Homo sapiens: one gene and its partners. The protein of the gene in region 3 purifies or fractionates together with the protein of the main gene of each other region. This does not show direct contact. Each region holds a gene or a part of one and is shown on either strand. Other genes may lie near its edges.

Evidence for each region.
Region 1: the proteins of SMNDC1 (region 3) and U2SURP purify together in Homo sapiens (affinity purification with mass spectrometry; 2 studies listed by BioGRID and IntAct, with this or other methods). This does not show direct contact.
Region 2: the proteins of SMNDC1 (region 3) and SF3A3 purify together in Homo sapiens (affinity purification with mass spectrometry; 3 studies listed by BioGRID and IntAct, with this or other methods). This does not show direct contact.

What each region holds. Positions count from the first base shown.
Region 1 is NC_000003.12:142,997,018-143,004,615, reverse strand, and holds the start of U2SURP (U2 snRNP-associated SURP motif-containing protein), read right to left. Parts: upstream 3,047-7,598; 5' UTR 2,988-3,046; coding exon 2,943-2,987; intron 1-2,942.
Region 2 is NC_000001.11:37,965,938-37,973,054, forward strand, and holds part of SF3A3 (splicing factor 3A subunit 3), read right to left. Parts: intron 3,799-7,117; coding exon 3,634-3,798; intron 3,528-3,633; coding exon 3,417-3,527; intron 2,198-3,416; coding exon 2,107-2,197; intron 1-2,106. UniProt on the Homo sapiens protein: Component of the 17S U2 SnRNP complex of the spliceosome, a large ribonucleoprotein complex that removes introns from transcribed pre-mRNAs.
Region 3 is NC_000010.11:110,290,221-110,295,028, reverse strand, and holds the end of SMNDC1 (survival of motor neuron-related-splicing factor 30), read left to right. Parts: intron 1-741; coding exon 742-879; 3' UTR 880-4,299; downstream 4,300-4,808. UniProt on the Homo sapiens protein: Involved in spliceosome assembly.

The DNA of each region.
Region 1 (7,598 bases), on a different chromosome or scaffold from region 3:
TATAATCCCCGCACTTTGGGAGGCCGAGGCGGGGGGGGGGGGTCACAAGGTCAAGAGGCCAACAGATGAAACCCCATCTCTACTAAAAATACAAAAATTGGCCAGGCGCCTGTAGTCCCAGCTACTCGGGAGGCTGAGGCAGAAGAATTGCTTGAACCCAGGAGGCAGAGGTTGCAGTGAGCTGAGATTGCACCACTGCACTCCAGCCTGGGCGACAAGGCAAGACTCCCTCTCAAAAAAAAAAAAAAAAAAAAAAAAAAAACACCCCAACTAGAAGACCTGTAGAGGTTATCTAATTTAATCTTTTTATAATTAAGAAATGTTAATAATTTTGCCATATTGTACATTTAAAATTAACATTTTCCCAATGTCTAGAAATATAATAAGCATCCCTATCCATATTAACGGGAATGTAACTACCAAAGAAAACGACGAATCATGAAACAGAAGTATCTGTTCACTCCATCTGTATTGTAAAATATAAGCCACTCATCTGTTCTTTCCAGAGGAAAGGAAATCAAACCAGATATCAAAGGCTAGAAATTCTAAATACTGTAGTATTAGCCAAAATGATCTTACAATTTCTCTAATAAATTATGTGTTAGAAATAAAAAGCAGGGAAGCAGGGCGGGGCACGGTGGCTCACGCCTGTAATCCCATCACTTTGGGAGGCTGAGGCGGGTGGATCACGAGGTCAAGAGATCGAGACCATCCTGGCCAACATGGTGAAACCCCGTCTCTACTAAAATACAAAAAATTAGCCGGGCGTACTGGCGGGCGCCTGTAGTCCCAGCTACTAGGGAGGCTGAGGCAGGAGAATCACTTGAACCCGGGAGGCGGAGGTTGCAATGAGCCGAGATTGTGCCACTGCACTCCAGCACTCCAGCCTGGGCGACAGAGCGAAACTCTTTCACAAAAAAAAAAAAAAAAAAAAAAAAGAAATAAAATAAATAAAAAGCAGCTATCTGGGCAGTCATTATGACAGCTGATGACTTAGATTCCAAATCACAGGATTAAAATTTATCCTGACATTTTGAAAGCTAAGAACTTTTGATTTCCTCTAAAAACAAAAAGAGGGGAAAGAAATTAAGATTTATTATGTACTTCATAGACATTATCTCATTTGATCCTTATATCAACCATGTAAAAAAAGAATTATATCTACATTACAAATGAGGGAATTGAGGCTCCAGAGTTTAAGCAATCTGCCTTATTATCGCAAATATAATTAATTACCAAGTCAGGATTTGAACCCAAATCTCTTGTTAACAAAATTCATAATCTTCCCACTACATTATGCAGCCTCCAAATTAGTTAAGATATTCTGATTCCTTTCACAGACATCAGTAAGAAATCTGCTAATAGCATCAAGAGATTATAATCTAAGGCAATATAAACAGAAAAGATTACTGGATAATCCAATAATTTATTTATTGAGAACAGCCATACATTCAGTCATGAGAAGCACTATTTTAGAAGGAAGCCTGAACACAGACATTGAAATGTTTTCAATGTATCCAAGACCTCAAGTAGGGAATACTTAAAATATTACTTTGAGAAGAAACAAAAATTGTGAGGCTTATGCACGACTTGTTATGAACGTAGCTAGCTTTAGTAATAGCTCCCTAACGGTATGTTCTTGTCAGGAGTCTGTTGAGAAGAGTTGGTAGAGCTCGCCCCCAAAGAGAGGGAGACGAGAAAATGTACTGAGGAGGGGGAAAAAAAACTGACACAATACCTTGTAAAGAAGCCGAAACTGGCCCCTCACCAAAGTTTCTATGTAACTAAACGATGTCTGTTAAGACCATTACTAATTATGAATTAATTATTTTGGTGTACATCGTTCACCAAATGGCATAAACAGTCGGATTAGAGAAAGCAAGTAGAAAACGAGTTATGATGTTTCTCAGAACTGTAAACGCAAGCTTCTCTCCTACCGTAAATTTAACTTTCTAATAGCCGATTTACAGTCACACACTCTTTAAGATTTAACAGTCCCTAGCACCTGAAAGTGTTACACAGCTTCTTGCATCAGCATCGGAAAGTTTAACTACCTCGTGGCAGTACCAATTACTTTTAATATATTCGAGACCAGAAACCCAAACCAAAAAACGATTAAATGTCCCGCCCAAGATGGCAACTAAGAACCCAACCGTACTAATGCTTAACTACTACCACAGCTCACTGGTTTCACAATACGTGCCCAGGGTTCCCTGTAAACACAAATGCAATTTACTAATCGTATGTAGCTTACAAGTCTACGGAGCTTCTCTTTTCACTGTTTCTTCAACATAAAGAAAGAGACCACGAGTCCTCTACCCTCAAAAGTGCTTTTTACTTCCCGTTAAGGTAAAGACCACGTGTAGACTGTACATTAACCTTGGCTATGCAGCACTGCAAAGGAGAGCTGCTCCCGCCTCTGCATTTCCCACTCCGTGTCTTTGCCCTAGTGGTCCTCCCCTCACAGCTGGCGACCCTAGAGGTTATTCATTCCTTGGAGGGAAACTGAGGGAGGCCGGAAGTGAGTGAGATCCAAAACCGAGAAAAAAGCAGCAGACATTTAAGCACCGGGAAGCGATTCCCGCCTCTCTCCCAGGCGCTGTCTGGCGGCCTCAGGGCGCAGGAAGCTGAGATACAGGAGAGCGTTTTCACTGCTTCAGACCTCAATCTGAATTCCTGATTTCACTCCAATGCCAAGCGCGGGCCGAAGCACTCACGCCTCCACCCACTGGGCACGCCAGTCTCGAGCTGAATCCCGGCTGGGACTATGGGGAGATACCAGGCCTCTCAACCTGCGCACAACGGTGCGGCGGCGCCCGGGCCTACCGTCGCGACTAGAATGCAGACCCCAATCCCAATCGCCTCTCACAGGCCAGAAGCGTCTGTGGGCCCCAAACGACAGTGGTAGATCCGCTGACTTACGAAATTTTGTCAGAAATTACCTTTGAACTGGCCTTCTGAGATCCGCCTGGCGTTTTGTCCGCCATCTTGAGCTTTGCCCCTCCTTCGGCGGCGGCAGCAGCACGGGCGAGTCGAGCACCGAAAGAGCGGATCTCAGTGAAGCCCGCCAGAGGCGCCTGCAAGGCTGAATAGTCGACTGTCGAGATAGCGACCTTAGGGGCAGCCGCTCACGTGACTTCCGGTGTCAGTAATTTCCTCAGCCGCGCTCACTCCGCTAGTTTTCCTGGGAGTCACGGTGCTTGGTCGCGTTATTGGGTCCGGGAATTCAGAGAATCAGGGCCAGCTGATACTTCACCCTCTTATCCCAACGCCAACCCTTGATAGATGCGAACCAGTCGTATTTCCTTTGTGGGAAAGGAGTCGCTTTTTAAAGACGTGCACTGGCCATCTAGGGAGGAGCTTTTACTTCAACTCAAAATAGGACTGGAGCTGACTGGTGACCTGGCGCTCGATGGACGGAAACGCTGTTCTTGCCGCTTCGGCAGCTCCCATACTGGTGGGAGAGGCAAACTTGCAGTCTGCTCATCTTAAGATGGTGAATGTTGAGATAGGGTTGCTCCCGAAAAGCCGAGAAGAGGAGCCGTTTGACCCAACTTGAGGGTGATCCGATAGACACTCTTTAGGGCGTCTGCAGAGTGGGTGCGCGTGGAGACAGTCAATAAGAGAAAATCGTAAATACAGATGGTATTCTAAATCTAGCATGCATGTAAAGTTGTGTGACATTTTAAAGATTACATTTTACACTTTAGTATTGTTTTCATTTTTAATCACATAAATGGGGGAACACCATATTAAACTTTTCTGAACTTAGTACTTTTTTAAAAAGTTCTTAATCAGGGCCTAGATTCAAAGACGGAAAGCTTGCTTGAGAAGGCCATGCCCGAATCAGGCCAGGCAAGGAAAGAAAGGACATTCCAGACAGAGGGAGTAATTGAGGTAAAAGCCTGTGGCATGAATCAGTACAGCCGATCGTGCAGGTCACCTAAAGCAGTCGTTTTATTAGACCAGGTGTGGGGAGGGACGTGGTTGGACAGGGGTGCGGGTGCAGGTTCACACAGCGCCCTGAGGTCACCATCGTGCTTAGGAGTTAGAATTCTGTTCTCAGAATGAAGATCGGCCTTTAACAAGGTTGAAATGGTCAGATTTTTATTTTAAAGTATTGCTCTGAGGACTAGGGTGGGAGTGGAGGGCGTTTGTGGACCTCTCCCTAAATCATTTATTCAAAATATTTTTGAGCCCCGTTTTGTGTGTAAAAGCCTGCCCAAAGTGTTGTAGGGCTTACAGAGACAGACAAACATGCACTGTCTTCATATGATTTAAAACTTAATGAGAAATGGAGGAGACAAGGAAACCGCAAACTGACACTATGCATAATTAAATTGATGCTGCAAGGAAGGATCAATAGCTGAGGGACCTCTGAAAGAAGTAATTAATTCTGAGAGTAGGAGTGAGGAAAAGAGACGGGGCGGGGCAGGGGGGGGGGTGGTCATAGAGAAGAAAGCATTTGAACCAGCTCTGAAGAAGTAGAATTTTGTTGAATGGCGGGGGTGGGGAGCGAGGGAAGCACTTAGAACAGGATCTGACACAAGGCTGGCTCTCAAGAAAGATTAACAGACATATATGCCAGCCACTAAGGAATCAGCAGGCCAGGCCTCCTATTCTCTGTGAGGGTATGAGGGTAGAAGAACAGACAGTAAACAAGAAATGATCTGAAAGTGACAAGTGCTACACATGAAATTAGAATGACTTGCACCCTCCAACCCAATTCAATTTACTTCTACTGCTGGATTCTGTCATACTTTTTCAGTTCTGGGCCTCTTCCCTCAACCTTGCCCTGCCCTCTCATTGAAGTCTAATCCAATTCTACTCTGGGTGAAGATGTCCCTTCCTCCAGGAAGGCTTACAGTCCTCCCTCCCCACCAATCCTAAATCAGAGACCCTTCTGTTTCCAAGGAACCTATACTTTACCACTTTGAAGAGCTCAGCACACTAGATCTTAACAGGGTTTTGTTTTGTTTTGTTTGTTTTGAGACGTCTCGCTCTGTCGCCTAGGCTGGAGTGCAGTGGCGTGATCTCGGCTCACTGCAAGCTCCGCCTCCTGGGTTCATGCCATTCTCCTGCCACAGCCTCCCGAGTAGCTGGGACTATAGGCGCCCGCCACCACGCTCGGGTAATTTTTTGTATTTTCAGTAGAGACGGGGTTTCACCATGTTAATCAGGATGGTCTCCATCTCCTGACCTCGTGATCCACCCACCTCGGCCTCCCAAAGTGCTGGGATTACAGGCGTGAGCCACCGCGCCCAGCCTAGATCTTAACTGTTTATAGGATTAGAAAGTGAAATCATCAGCTGAGATGAAGAGGAGAAGTGGGACTGGGTATGCCTTGTGGTGTTCTGACAATGCCACAGGCTGATTTTGTCACTAGAAAGTGAATATGTGTAGCTTTTCAGTCAAATCCCCAAAGTCCTACTTATTTTAAAAATAATTTTTACTAAATACTCCTGAAGAGTCAAAAACAAAAGAATGCAGACTTCTTTCCTCTCTTCTTTTTTATATTGTAAGCCCCAAAGCAAGTCAGACAAATATGATGTGACTAGAAATAATACGGGCCTTTATTAAGGGTTAAGTACGCTTTTAAAAATTCAAAATCATTGCCAGGCACAGTGGCTCAGGCTTGTACTCCTAGCACTTTGGGAGGCCAAGGCGGGCAGATCAAGGCAGGCAGATGGCTTGAACCCATGAGTTCGAGACCAGCCTGGGCAACATGGCAAAACCTTATTTCTACAAAAAAATATTTAAAAATCAGCCAGATGTGGTGGCATGCATCTGTAGTCCCAGATAGGAGGCTGAAGTGGGAGGACCACCAGAGCACTGGGAATCTTGCCATTGCACTCCAGTCTGGGCAACAGAGTGACCCTATCTCAGGAAAAAAAAAAAAAAATTGAACATCACAATTATGAGTAAGAATTCTTGATACGTGAAATTCTGGCCCTATTACGTCATGAAATTCTGGCCCTATTACTCAAATTACAAATTCAGGAAAGTGAAATAGCATGAAAATAATCCAAATGGAATTTTATGGAATCTGAATAATTAGATTAGTGCTAAGGGACTACACATAAACAGTAAGAATCATGCAATTTACTGCAACTAGTATTACCTTTTTACAATTACAGTAAAACCATGCCATTTTTCTCTTCCCGATGTGTTGATTTTCTGGTGCCCACACCTGCCATTTGTTTTTAAGGCTTCTCCCTGCAGCAGATACGTTCAAGAGAAATTACAAAGTAGTGCCATATACAATACTGAGATGTTTTGTTTGGTTCATTCAGGGAGATTTTTTCTTTGAAATTTGAGCTAGCATTTTAAAACAGAGAGATTTTACATAAAACTCAGGGTTTCTAGCCTTTCTTGAAAAATGGGGAAGTCTGGCAACACTGGGGGACAATCCAGGTGAGGTGGCCTGCAGCGACTTCTAGGGAAGGGGGCTATGAACACCAGTTTAGCCACCAACTCATCATACACGGTGGACAAATTCCCCATACCCAGCCTGCTTGTAGGCATTTCAGTTTTCTACTTCTGATGTACAGTGTAATACTTACCTGGGGTGATGATCAAAACATTACCAACCAGTTCCCCCAGGCACCAGCCAGAACTGACTTGTTAGTAAGGTACAGGAGACTCAGTGCCTAGGGCTCACAATAATTTTTAGACCTCCCCACCAAAAATGTTTTGATTTCTTTAAGGAGGAAAAAAGTGGAGTGGAGAAAGTATTTAACAATACAAACAGCTGTGGAACCTGTGCATGCTGAAAGATAGAGACCTTAAAAAATGATTGCCCCAAAGCTACAGCCTCCTGTATTGTGCCAATGGACTGCTCCTACTTGGTGGCATTTTCATTCTAGACAGTTTTTAAACAGTTTTTCCCTGCTCTCTGGGTTTCAGGATATAGGCTGGTAAAAGGAACACTCCATTTGCTTCTTTGGCATTTATTGAGTTTCTAGCTTGTGCTAGGCTCTGAAGAAAGAAGATAAAAGGAGAGACAACTAAAAATCAGACTTAATGTCTTCTGCTAAGACAGATCCTAGCTGCTTCTAGGAATAATTAGGAAACAGCCTTCACGGAGGTGTGGTCAGTGTGGAATGGAAAATTCCTTCTGCTGCACTTGACTGCCTGCCCCACACCCACCCCACAACGTAAGTGTTATGAATAAGGTTTTAGTAGCAACAGCAGCTGCTCCCCCTTTCTCACACACACAAAAATTACCTGACTCACTTATTGATTATATACAGATTCCTTTGACAATAATAATTAGCAGTGGCAGCCAGGCGCAGTGGCTCACGCCTGTAATCCTAGCACTTTGGGAGGCCAAGGCAGGTGGATTGCCTGAGCTCAGGAATTTGAGACCAGCGTGGGCAACATGGTGAAACCCCTTCTCTACTAAAATACAAAAGAAATTAGCTGGGCATGGCAGCGTGCACCTGTAGTCCCAGCTACTCAGGAGGCTGAGGCAGGAGAAATGCTTGAACCCAGGAGGCAGAGGTTGCAGTGAGCTGAGATCACACCACTGCACTCCAGCCTGGGCAACAAAGCGAGACTCCGTCTCTACAAAAAATAATAATAATAATAATAATAAT
Region 2 (7,117 bases), on a different chromosome or scaffold from region 3:
CGCCTGTAATCCCAGTACTTTGGGAAGCCAAGGCAGGTAGGTCACCTGAGATCAGGAGTTTGAGACCAGCCTGGCCAACATGCTAAAACCCCGTCTCTACTAAAAATACAAAAAAATTAGCCAGGCGTGGTGGCGAGCGCTTGTAATTCCAGCTACTCGGGAGGCTGAGGCAGGAGAATCGCTTGGAACCAGGAGGTGGAGGTTGCAGTGAGCTGAGATCACGCTACTGCACTCCAGCTTGGGTGACAGAGCAAGACTCTGTCTCAAAAAAATAAATAAATAAATTAATTAATTAAATTAAATTAAAAAAAAAGAAGAAAAGAAAAGGCTGCCATGAAAATGTTAATGGCAGAGAAAGCTACTACTGCTGGGAAAACAGGAAGCCTGGCGGTGGTCCTCTATGTGCTTCAGCAGCACATTCCCTGACATGCACTCCGCTTCACTTTCTTCAAGAGGTATTTTGCTGCTGTGTTTCTATAGCCTCTAACACAAGCTTACTGAGGGTACTTCTATATTTTCCTTTATATCAGTCATTATTTAACACATTAAAATCAATTCAGAAAACTATCCATACAACCATTCAATCAAAATCTTGCATAAAAGGGAGTTCACAGACCCAGGCTAAAAGCCCTGGTTTATACTCAGCACAGAGCTCTTCTCAAAGGAGAAACAATCAGTATTGCCGACTAATTCATTTCTCTTAAAAATGCAATAATTAGCTGGGCACGGTGGATCACGCCTGTAATCGCAGCACTTTGGGAGGCCGAGGTGGGCAGATCACCTGAGGTCAGGAGTTCAAGACCAGCCTGACCAACATGGAGAAACCCGTCTCTACTAAAAGTACAAAATTAGCCAGGCATGGTGGCGCATACTTGTAATCCCAGCTACTCGGGAGGCTGAGGCAGGAGAATCGCTTGAACCCAGGAGGCACAGGTTGCAGTGAGCCGAGATCGCACCATTGCACTCCAGCCTGGGCAATATGAGCGAAACTCCATCTCAAAAAAAAAAAAAAAAAAAAAAAAAATGCAATAATTAGGCGCGGTGGCTCACGCCTGTTATCCCAGCACTTTGGGAGGCCAACATGGGTGGATCACTTGAGGTCAGGAGTTCGTCACCTCAACCAGCCTGGCCAACATGATGAAAGCCCATCTCTACTAAAAATAGAAAAATTAGCTGGGCATGGTGGCACATGCCTGTAATCCCAGGTACTAGGGAGGCTGAGGCAGGAGAATTGCTTGAGCCCAGGAGACGGAGGTTGCAGGAGCCAAGATCGTGCCACTGCACTCCAGCCTGGTGACAGAGTGAGACTCGTCTCAGAAACAAAGGCTGGGCATGGTGGCTCACGCCTATAATCCCAGCACTTTGGGAGGCTGAAGTGGGCGGATCACCTGAGGTCGGGAGTTCAAGGCCATCCTGGCTCACACAGTGAAACCCCGTCTCTACTAAAAATACAAAAAATTAGCCAGGTGTGGCGGCTCATGCCTGTAATCCCAGCACTTTGGGAGGCCAAGGCGGGCGGATCATGAGGTCAGGAGATCAAGACCATCCTGGCTAACACTGTGAAACCCTGTCTCTACTAAAAACACAAAAAATTAGCCAAGTGTGGTGGCGGGCGCCTGTAGTCCCAGCTACCGGGAGGCTGAGGCAGGAGAATGGCATGAACCCAGGAGGTGGAACTTGCAGTGAGCCGAGATCATGCCACTGCACTCCAACCTGGGCGACAGAGTGAGACTCCGTCACAAAAAAAAAAAAAAAAAAAAAAAAAAAAAAAAATTAGCCAGGTGTGGTGGCACGTGCCTGTAGTCCCAGCTACTCGGTAGGCTGAGGCAGGAGAATCGCTTGCGCCCGGGAGGCAGAGGTTGCAGTGGGCCAAGACTGCACCATTACACTCCAGCCTGGCGACAGAGCGAGACTCCATCCATCTCAAAACAAAACAAAAAAACACAAAACAAAAAACAGAAATGCAATAATTATACAACTGTCCTAGATTTTACATATCCACAACCTACTGCCTTTAACCCTGGATACACAGGGTATTAGGATGCTGAATTGAAGGAGTAGAGCCATTTGTACTCGCCTAGGAGACAGTAAATAAATCTTACTTACAGGAGACAGCATCTTCAATCTGTGTCACATTAGCAAAGTGAGCAGTGTTTGGGATGCCCAAACACCTCATGCCATGAGCATGACGCCATTCCTGGGAGAAGAGAGAAGCAAAAGGATCATGTGAAATGGGAATAGCTGAACACAGAGCACTAACTCCATTCTACTCATAAATCCTAACATGGCCCTTTGCAAGACTCCACCTAAAGGTAGCATTCCTTTTGTGATTCATGTTTGTAAACAGCTGGCTGTGACTGACAAAAGGGTGGTATTTCAAAGCAGCACTGCATTGTTTGCCTCACTGGGTTGGCTTGTAAACCTAGATTCTAGACCCAGTAGTCTTATACATAAAACCTCTGGGTCAAGATCACAGAAAAACATCACAACTCTCACTACATCTCCCATATTGCAGGAGAACTTACCAAAGCCCCAGCAACTCCAAACACCTGCATGAATAGGGGTTACTAATGGCAGGTCAGCATCATCTTTGTAGGTAAAGGAGAAGACTTTTATTAGGCACAATGATGTGGTGAGGAGAGAGCAGGGAGATTATACACTGACATGATGGCAGTTTTAACTAAGGGATGGTAAATGGCATGGGCTTTATCCTGGATGCCAACTCCAATCATTGTAGGAGGTGCTGAGAAGGATTCAGAACTCACTCATGGGCTCAGCAAAAAAGACCCATTATCAATTAGTAATATGTATGACTCAGAGAGGGGGAGAGGAGTTCATATAAATTTGTCATCCTTGGTCTAGCATAAATGTTTTCCTTTCTGTAAAATTTCCTTCCAAAATCTAAGAACTCTAAGTAGAGCCCACTTAGAGGTGAGCCCACTTACAGCAGTATCATCCGGACAATACCCTGTCTCAAGAATGGCTTGATAAATATCAGCCCCTTCATTTTTTATTTTCTCAAGAGGCAAAGATCCATTTAAGATCTGAAAGAGATCAGTCAGCCCTATTTTTTATCTTGAGTATTAGCAATGGGGTAGAGAAATAACCAAGAAGTCAGAAATTGGTCTAAAATGCTAGCAGAAAGACAAAAACAGAGAAGTTTAAGAGCAGGCAAGAGAAAACCAAATAAGGTTCAAAGAGTGGTGCGGTAGAATTCCTCCAGAAACTATCTCAGGTATTTAAGACTAACATTGGTGCCAAAAGTCAAATGCCATGGGCTTGATTTTAAAACCATCCTTCTCTGATTCCCTTCAGCTCTGGACACCAGTGGTCCACATAGGCTGCTCCTACTCTTTTCTCTAAAAGTCTCATGTTTTTACTTCAATTCCCAGGAAAAATGGCTCTGAATTCCTTACAGCAAAGTGTCGCTGGAAGGCTTTGGGCCCTCGGTAGGTGTAGTTTCCACAAATCTCACAGTTGTAGTTGATATTTAGGCCATGAAGCTTATACAGCCAGTAGGGAATAGGCTAAAAAAGAAAAAAACAAAACAAAACCAAGAAGTGTTAGCCTACTAAACTCTGTATCTGTTTCCAAAATGGGGAATGGGGAGAAAGTGGTAGTGCTGAGACTTACTTTGCCATCCCAGCCAAGTGGCAGGTTTTTGGGGTTGTAAATGATCTCGTTCTCTTCATCTTCACTCTCACTCTCACTGATCTGCTCTTCTTCCTCTTCTTCTCGCTCTTCTCCTGTCCTGGCTTGCTTGCGCTGTACATTTTCATGAGTGAGATGTCGCTGTTCCTAAAGCAGGTCCATAAATGAAAAGTCAGAAAAAAGTAGTGCAGAATAAGAAGGGAAATTTCCTGTTTTCCTGTAACTTTTGCTGACCCCTTACTTCCAAGGATAAGGTTCTTTCTTACAGAATAAAGGAAAATCTTGCCTTCATATCAGAACTCCTTATCAGCAGGCTCTACCTGATCCCAAAGAAAAGAGTCAAAGGTTTTACATCACTTGCCTAATTACTCATCTGAGGCTATTATAGAACAACAGAAAACAGTCTCATCTATTCTGACTCTAAAATATTTCCTGGCTGGGTGTGGTGGCTCACGCCTGTAATCCCATCACTTTTGGAGGCTGGGGTGGGAGAATCACTTGAGGCCAGGAGTTTGACATCAGCCTGGGCAACACAATGGGATCTCATCTCTACAAAACATTTACAAATTGGCTAGGCATGGAGGTGTGCACCTGTGATCCCAGCTCTTTAGGAGGCTGAGTTAGGAGGACTGCTTGAGCCCAGGAGTTTGAGGATGCAGTGAGCTCTGATCCCGCCACTGCACTCCAGCCTGGGCGACAGAGTGAGACTCCTTCTCAAAAAAAAAAAAAAAAAATATGCACACAATACAGGAGCACCCAGATTCATAAAGCAAGTCCTCAGAGACCTACAAAGAGACTTAGACTCCCACACAATAATAATGGGAAACTTTAACACCCCACTGTCAACATTAGACAGATCAACGAGACAAAGTTAACAAGGATATCCAGGAATTGAACTCAGCTCTGCACCAAGCGGACCTAATAGACATCTACAGAACTCTCCACCCCAAATCAACAGAATATACATTCTTCTCAGCACCACATCACACTTATTCCAAAATTGACCACATAGTTGGAAGTAAAGCACTCCTCAGCAAATGTAAAAGAACAGAAATTATAACAAACTGTCTCTCAGACGACAGTGCAGTCAAACTAGAACTCAGGATTAAGAAACTCACTCAAAACCGCTCAACTACATGGAAACTGAACAACCTGCTCCTGAATGACTACTGGATAAATAACGAAATGAAGGCAGAAATAAAGTGTTCTTGGAAACCAATGAGCACAAAGACACAACATACCAGAATCTCTGGGACGCATTTAAAGCAGCGTGTAAAGGGAAATTTATAGCACTAAATGTCCACAAAAGAAAGCAGGAAAGATCTAAAACTGACACCCTAACATCACAATTAAAAGAACTAGAGAAGCAAGAGCAAACACATTCAAAAGCTAGCAGAAGGCAAGAAATAATTAAGATCAGAGGAGAAGTGAAGGAGACAGACACACAAAAAAACCCTTCAAAAAAAATCAATGAATCCAGGAGCTGGTTTTTTGAAAAGATCAACAAAATTGATAAGACCGCTAGCAAGACTAATAAAGAAGAGAGAAGAATCAAACAGACGCAATAAAAAACGAAAAAGGAGATATCAACACCGATCCCACAGAAATACAAACTACCATCAGAGAATACTATAAACACCTCTACACAAACAAACTAGAAAATCTAGAAGAAATGGATAAATTCCTGGACACATACACCCTCCCAAGACTAAACCAGGAAGAAGTTGAATCCCTGAATAGACCAATAACAGGTTCTGAAACTGAGGCAATAATTAATAGCCTACCAACCAAAAAAAAGTCCAGGACCAGACGGATTCACAGCCGAGTTCTACCAGAGGTACAAAAAGAGCTGGTACCATTCCTTCTGAAACTATTCTAATCAATAGGAAAAGAGGGAATCCTCCCTAACTCATTTTATGAGGCCAACATCATCCTGATACCAAAGCCTGGCAGAGACCACAACAAAAAAAAGAGAATTTTAGACAATATCCCTGATGAACATCGATCCAAAAATCCTCAATAAAATACTGGCAAACTGAATCCAGCAGCACATCAAAAACTTATCCACCATGATCAAGTTGGCTTCATCCCTGTGATGCAAGGCTGGTTCAACATACGCAAATCAATAAACGTAATCCATCATATAAACAGAACCAAAGACAAAAACCACATGATTATCTCAATAGATGCAGAAAAGGCCTTTGACAAAATTCAACAGCCCTTCATGCTAAAAACTCTCAATAAACTAGGTATTAATAGGATGTTTCTCAAAATAATAAGAGCCATTTATGACAAACCCACAGCCAATATCATACTGAATGGGCAAAAACTGGAAGCATTCCCTTTGAAAACTGGCACAAGACAGGGATGCCCTTTCTCACCACTCCAATTCAACATAGTGTTGGAAGTTCCGGCCAGGGCAATCAGGCAGGAGAAAGAAATAAAGGGTATTCAATTAGGAAAAAAGGAAGTCAAATTGTCCCTGTTTGCAGATGACATGATTGTACATTTAGAAAACTCCATTGTCTCAGCCCAAAATCTCCTTAAGCTGATAAGCAACTTCAGCAAAGTCTCAGGATACAAAATCATGTGCAAAAATCACAAGCATTCTTATACACCAATAACAGATAAACGGAGAGCCAAATCATGAGTGAACTCCCCTTCACAATTCCTTCAAAGAGAATAAAATACCTAGGAATCCAGCTTACAAGGGATGTGAAGGACCTCTTCAAGGAGAACTACAAACCACTGCTCAACGAAATGAAAGAGGACACAAAGAAATGGAAGAACATTCCATGCTCATGGATAGGAAGAATCAATATTGTGAAAATGGCCATACTGCCCAAGGTAATTTATAGACTCAATGCCATCCCCATCAAGCTACCAATGACTTCACAAGCTTACCAATTTCTTCACAGAATTGGAAAAAACTACTTGAAAGTTCACATGGAACCAAAAAAGAGCCTGCCTTGCCAAGACAATCCTAAGCCAAAAGAACAAAGCTGGAGGCATCACGCTATCTGACTTCAAACTATACTACAAGGCTACAGTAACCAAAACAGCATGGTACTGGTATCAAAACAGAGATATAGACCAATGGAACAGAACGGAGTCCTTGGAAATAGTATGACACATCTACAACCATCTGATCTTTGACAAACCTGACAAAAACAAGAAATGGGGAAAGGATTCCCTATTTAATAAATGGTGCTGGGAAAACTGGCTAGACATATGTAGAAAGCTGAAACTGGATTCCTTCCTTACACCCTATACAAAAATTAATTCAAGATGGATTAAAGACTTAAATGTGGGCCGGGTGCGGTGGCTCACGCCTGTAATCCCAGCACTTTGGGAGGCCAAGGTGGGTGGATCACCTGAGGTCGGGAGTTCGAGATCAGCCTGGCTAACATGGTGAAACCCTGTCTCACTAAATACACAAAATTAACTGGGCATGGTGGCACATGCT
Region 3 (4,808 bases):
ATTTATATCAGAAATTACAAAAGGTCTATGTTCTTTTCCTTCTATAAACTAATATTTGAAAAAATAGTTGCTACTTAGAGGCAGTGTGCTTAACTCTATCTGCTTTGTTAACATGCCTTCATGCTGGGCATCACTGGTAGATTTTATTTAAAAGTGCATTCAGTTTCCCTTGATACACTTACCTTGTGTGTGTTGGGTAGAAAATAACTGTAGCATTCATATAGGAAGTTGAGAATAAGGATAACCTGACTTTCACCCATGTGTTACTCTTCACTGCCATCAAGGTAGCCCTTCCATTGATGGACATGGCTTCTGGAAAGAAGCGCTTCCTTTTCATAAAGATGTTTATTTTGTGACAAAGGCCAAGGGACTTCACAATTTGGCTATCATAACAGGCCCCACAGTAAACCACAATACAGCCAGAGCTTTAATCATGCTAGAATGGCTAGCTCACAGCTGAAGTTAGGATTTGCGTTTACAAAACTAAAATTTTGACGTATCAGAAGGCAAGTGTTATGAGTATTAGTAAATGTAATGATATTTTCCACAACTTAGAAGTTACAGTAAATGGCTTCCAGCATGGGACCACTTCTGTACCCATTTTTTAACACTAAACAAAGGCAATATGTTTTTCTTCTTTTAAACGTTGAAACCAGAATATATTTTAACATTACTTAAAATTTGAAATTTTTTATTTTTTCCAACACTAATCAGGAATGATTTCTGTTTTCTTTCCCTTAGGTAAAGAGGAGTATTTTTGCTTCACCTGAGAGTGTGACTGGTAAAGTTGGAGTAGGAACCTGTGGAATTGCTGATAAACCTATGACACAATATCAAGATACCTCTAAATACAATGTCAGGCATTTGATGCCTCAATAATCAGAAAAACTGTTGGATTTCATCTCTGCAGGGCTTTACATTTACCTTTTTATCCTTATATTTTTCTAAAGGTAAATTATTTGTTAGATGAGTAAGCAAGATACCATTGTCGTCATTGGTTGGCTTCAGTAGAATGAAACGTGAAGAAATTGCATTTGATAACTGCTATTCATTTAACTTTTCTCATTATCAGTACCACGGTTCCCTCAAAGTTTGTTGAATAAAGCAACTTTTGTAGATGCTGTTTCATACAGCACTTAGATGAATTATTGATCTTCCTAATATCAGGCGCCTACTTAACCTATGGTGTGTACTTTTTGTAAGTTGTAACTTGAAATTTTCAGATGCTTTGAACTTGACACATACTCTAGCAATTCATTGGAACACCAAGGCAAAAACACCAACCTGCTAAAAGAGATCTTTTCATTTTTCTTATTTTCAGCTTTAAAACTTAGCTGTCGTTCAGTTAAGCTTAAAGATAGGTTAATTTGTAAATGGCAAAGTTTGTTTTGAGGTTTTTCCTCAATAACTTGTTTCCCAGGCCTATTAGGCCATCTCTAAAATTGATCTAGCTGTTTTATTTTTATGTACTCTTAGTTTTATGTAAGAAACCTTAGGATGAGCTCCCTTTTCTAAGGTGTTTTTGTTTTTTGTATGTTTGCTTTTTTCCTGTTTTTTGTTTTTTCCATTTACGGCAGTGGTACCATGTTTTGGATGTGTGATGTTTATATGGGAGAACAAAAAGCTGATGTATAGCCCTGTATACAGTGTAGATACTATTTTTGTAAAAACACAAGGCTAAATTAATGAACAAGAATACTGAATATTTCATCATTAAAAATTTCTTGTATTTCTTGTGCATTAATCTGACGATAATTTCCCTGTATATTATGTTCATTTAGCTGTTTGTAATTTTTGTTAATTAGATCAGGTTGTCTGCATTTGTTGGTGTAAGTGAACATCATCACAGTTATCCTGAGTTGAGTTTAAGCCAAATACATGCATAGAAAAGGGTCTTCCTATTAATGGAAGAAGGTAATTTTTAGGATGTGTATTATTTCAGTTTTGTATGTTTAACTTTTATTAAATAAAGTGTTTTTAAAATCTCCAGGGTGTGTTAACAAAAGGGTAAAGTCTTTAGCTGTCAGCACTTAAAGCAATTAAACCTCCAAGTACTTGCACACGGCATTCATGCAAGAGAATACTGAGTGTGTGAGAGGTTTCAGTAAATGCTTAAGTATTCCTTCCATTAGAAGAAATTGGATCTTAAAGGGCAAACCAGGCCTGTGTTTATAGGATGTCCTCATTTTAATGGGTGTTTGTAGATTTTTGGTGGAAGGGGAAAATAAGTTTTTATTTCATGAATTTTAATTTTTTTTATAAATTGAAACTTAGGACAGTGGTAGGTAGAATTCTTCATCTCTCCCTTCCACACCCACCCCTCTCAACCCAGGAGGGTCACTTTTTCTTCATATAATTCGTGGCCACAGGGTAGGACACAAAGGACAGAAAGGCACAAACTGCAGTAGAAAAAGGGTTTGTTGAAGCCTGTAAACTTCTAAATAAAATATACTTTGTTATTGTAACATCTTAAGAGCTTATCAATAATCAAGAGTAGCCTTGATGGATTGCAAGAGAATCCTTTGAATTAAAAAGCACTGGGAAGAAATTTGGTGTCATTGTGTGACCCCAGAAAATGGTTGTTGAGATTACCTTGGTGGTATTAGAATAGTAATTCACTTGATGTTTGTGTAGGCAGGACTGTTAACAGTCTTGTCCCTCTTTTGACCCTGGGGGGCCTTAGTTTTCCCAGAGGACTTTGCAGTAGGAGAGAGAAAAAGAATAAAAGTGACCTTAAAAAAAAATGTTTTGAAAATAGACCTTTAGAATGAAATCAGCAACCTTTGTGTCAAAGATCTAGATGTGGCCCTTTGGAAAATCCTAGTGTCAGGATGATGTTTGTGTCTCTGAACTAAGAGGCAGGACTCCTGGGGAGACTACCTGTCACAGTGTGATACTGAATTTGAGAAGATGCTCAATGAGAAGCATGATACCCACAGTATTTTACAGTTGAAGGTGGTTAAGCTCTCTATATTCTGAAACAAAATATAAACCTTGACCTTAAAAAGCTTTGTTAGAAAATTTAATGTAGAGTTTTCCCCATTAAGAAAGGAGACTTGAAGCTTTGAAACTGTGACAGACTGAAATGTTAAATATTGAGTTATGGGCCCCTAAGTAGAAATGGTTGCATGTAACTTACCAAAGCTTGACGTTTGACTGTTGTTACCATTTCAAGGAAAGAACAGTCCTAACCTCCCGAAAATAAAATGTTGAGTTTTAGTGGTAATCACAGGTAACAAGTGCTATTTTAATTAACATGTAGGGAGGCCACAGAGCATACTGGAAAACAGCAAGGACTCTAGAGCCAGACTAGTGTTTGTTTATTACCATTTATTACCTGTGTATTCCCATTTATTACCTGTGTATTCCTCTGATTCATTTTTCTCAGCTGTAGAATGGAAAAATCTGTTTCAGTTTTAAGGATTGAATTCAAATGTGTAAATAGCTTAAGAGTATCCGGCATAAGCACTATAGAAGCGTCTGCTATTACTCTGCAGAGTGGCAGTGGTGAATTATCTGATATTTTTTCCTTAACTTGAATAGCAATCCACATTACAATGGATAACAATACCCATTGTTTATGATTTGAGGCATCCAATTATAACTGTATTATTGAAGTGTTATCAAATTACCAAGGCTGTAGGGTATATTTAGTATTCCTAGTTAAAGGTTTGAACTAATTTGTATACTAGGGCATGTTTCTTAATGGGAAGGGGGTGAAGGTTATAATAAAAGTCACCCCTAATGCTTGTTTAAAATTAAAGAGGAATTTGTGGGCCTGGGACCAACCTTAGACTTATCCAGGCCAAGGTATGTTGTTTGACGAACACCGCAGGTGATCCTGATGTGCATCCCCGTCTGAGAACTGTTAACTATAAAAGTTTGACTTTGGAAATGAAGAAAAATTACCTTTTAGCCTAATCATGAAGACTAGGCGTCAAACCAAAACAAGATGCATCAGTTACTGTAGCAACACATTTTTTTTAAAAAATTGCTTGTTGTCACAATGAAGGGTGTGTGTCTGTTTCCAGTATGCAATTCTAATGCCAAATGTCTGCCTTAAAAATAGCAAAGGAGACCATCAGGTTAACATAAAGGAAAACTGTAGTTGTGTGACTCATGTGTCTGTAGATTGTAATTTTATAATTACAATTTTTATAAGATAAAAAACTACCAGTTGTAAATTCAACCAAAAAAAATTTAAAGCTTTGATTTAGCTTTTTGCTTTAACTTGGGTAGTAACTGAAATATAAAGGAAGAAAATCTATTAAAACCAATGAGGTTTTATATTTTTTTAAATCTTGATTCAATAAATATCAGCTGAATTAAGTATCTGTATGGTACTACGAAGCAATCAATTAGTATAAATGGCAATTTACAAGTTCAACAGTAAATGTAAACATTCTTTGTATCTAGGATTTTTGAGTTGCAAGTTAAACTGAATTTTTACTGCAGTAGAGAGGAGGAGCATAGCAGGCAAAATAACAGGTAATACTGTATTTTAAACAAACAGAAAAACCCAAGTAATTGGCGCCCTTTATCCAATCATCTTTTAAAAGGCCTATGTATGTGTATAGTTATGTTCTTAAGAAACATCTTAAGAGGTTCAGAAATCAATTTTATAGATGGAACATTTTAATAATTCGTTTTGGCCTAGCCAAAAGAGTAAAATAAAACAAAATAGTGTTAGATTTCTGTGAGGTGTTTTAATTGCCTTTTCTGCCTTTTAACTTATGTATATAAAGGTGGTTCTTTTGTGGCCTTGATTGGGGTAAAGCAGAACTGAGAATAATAGGGGTTTGTAGTAG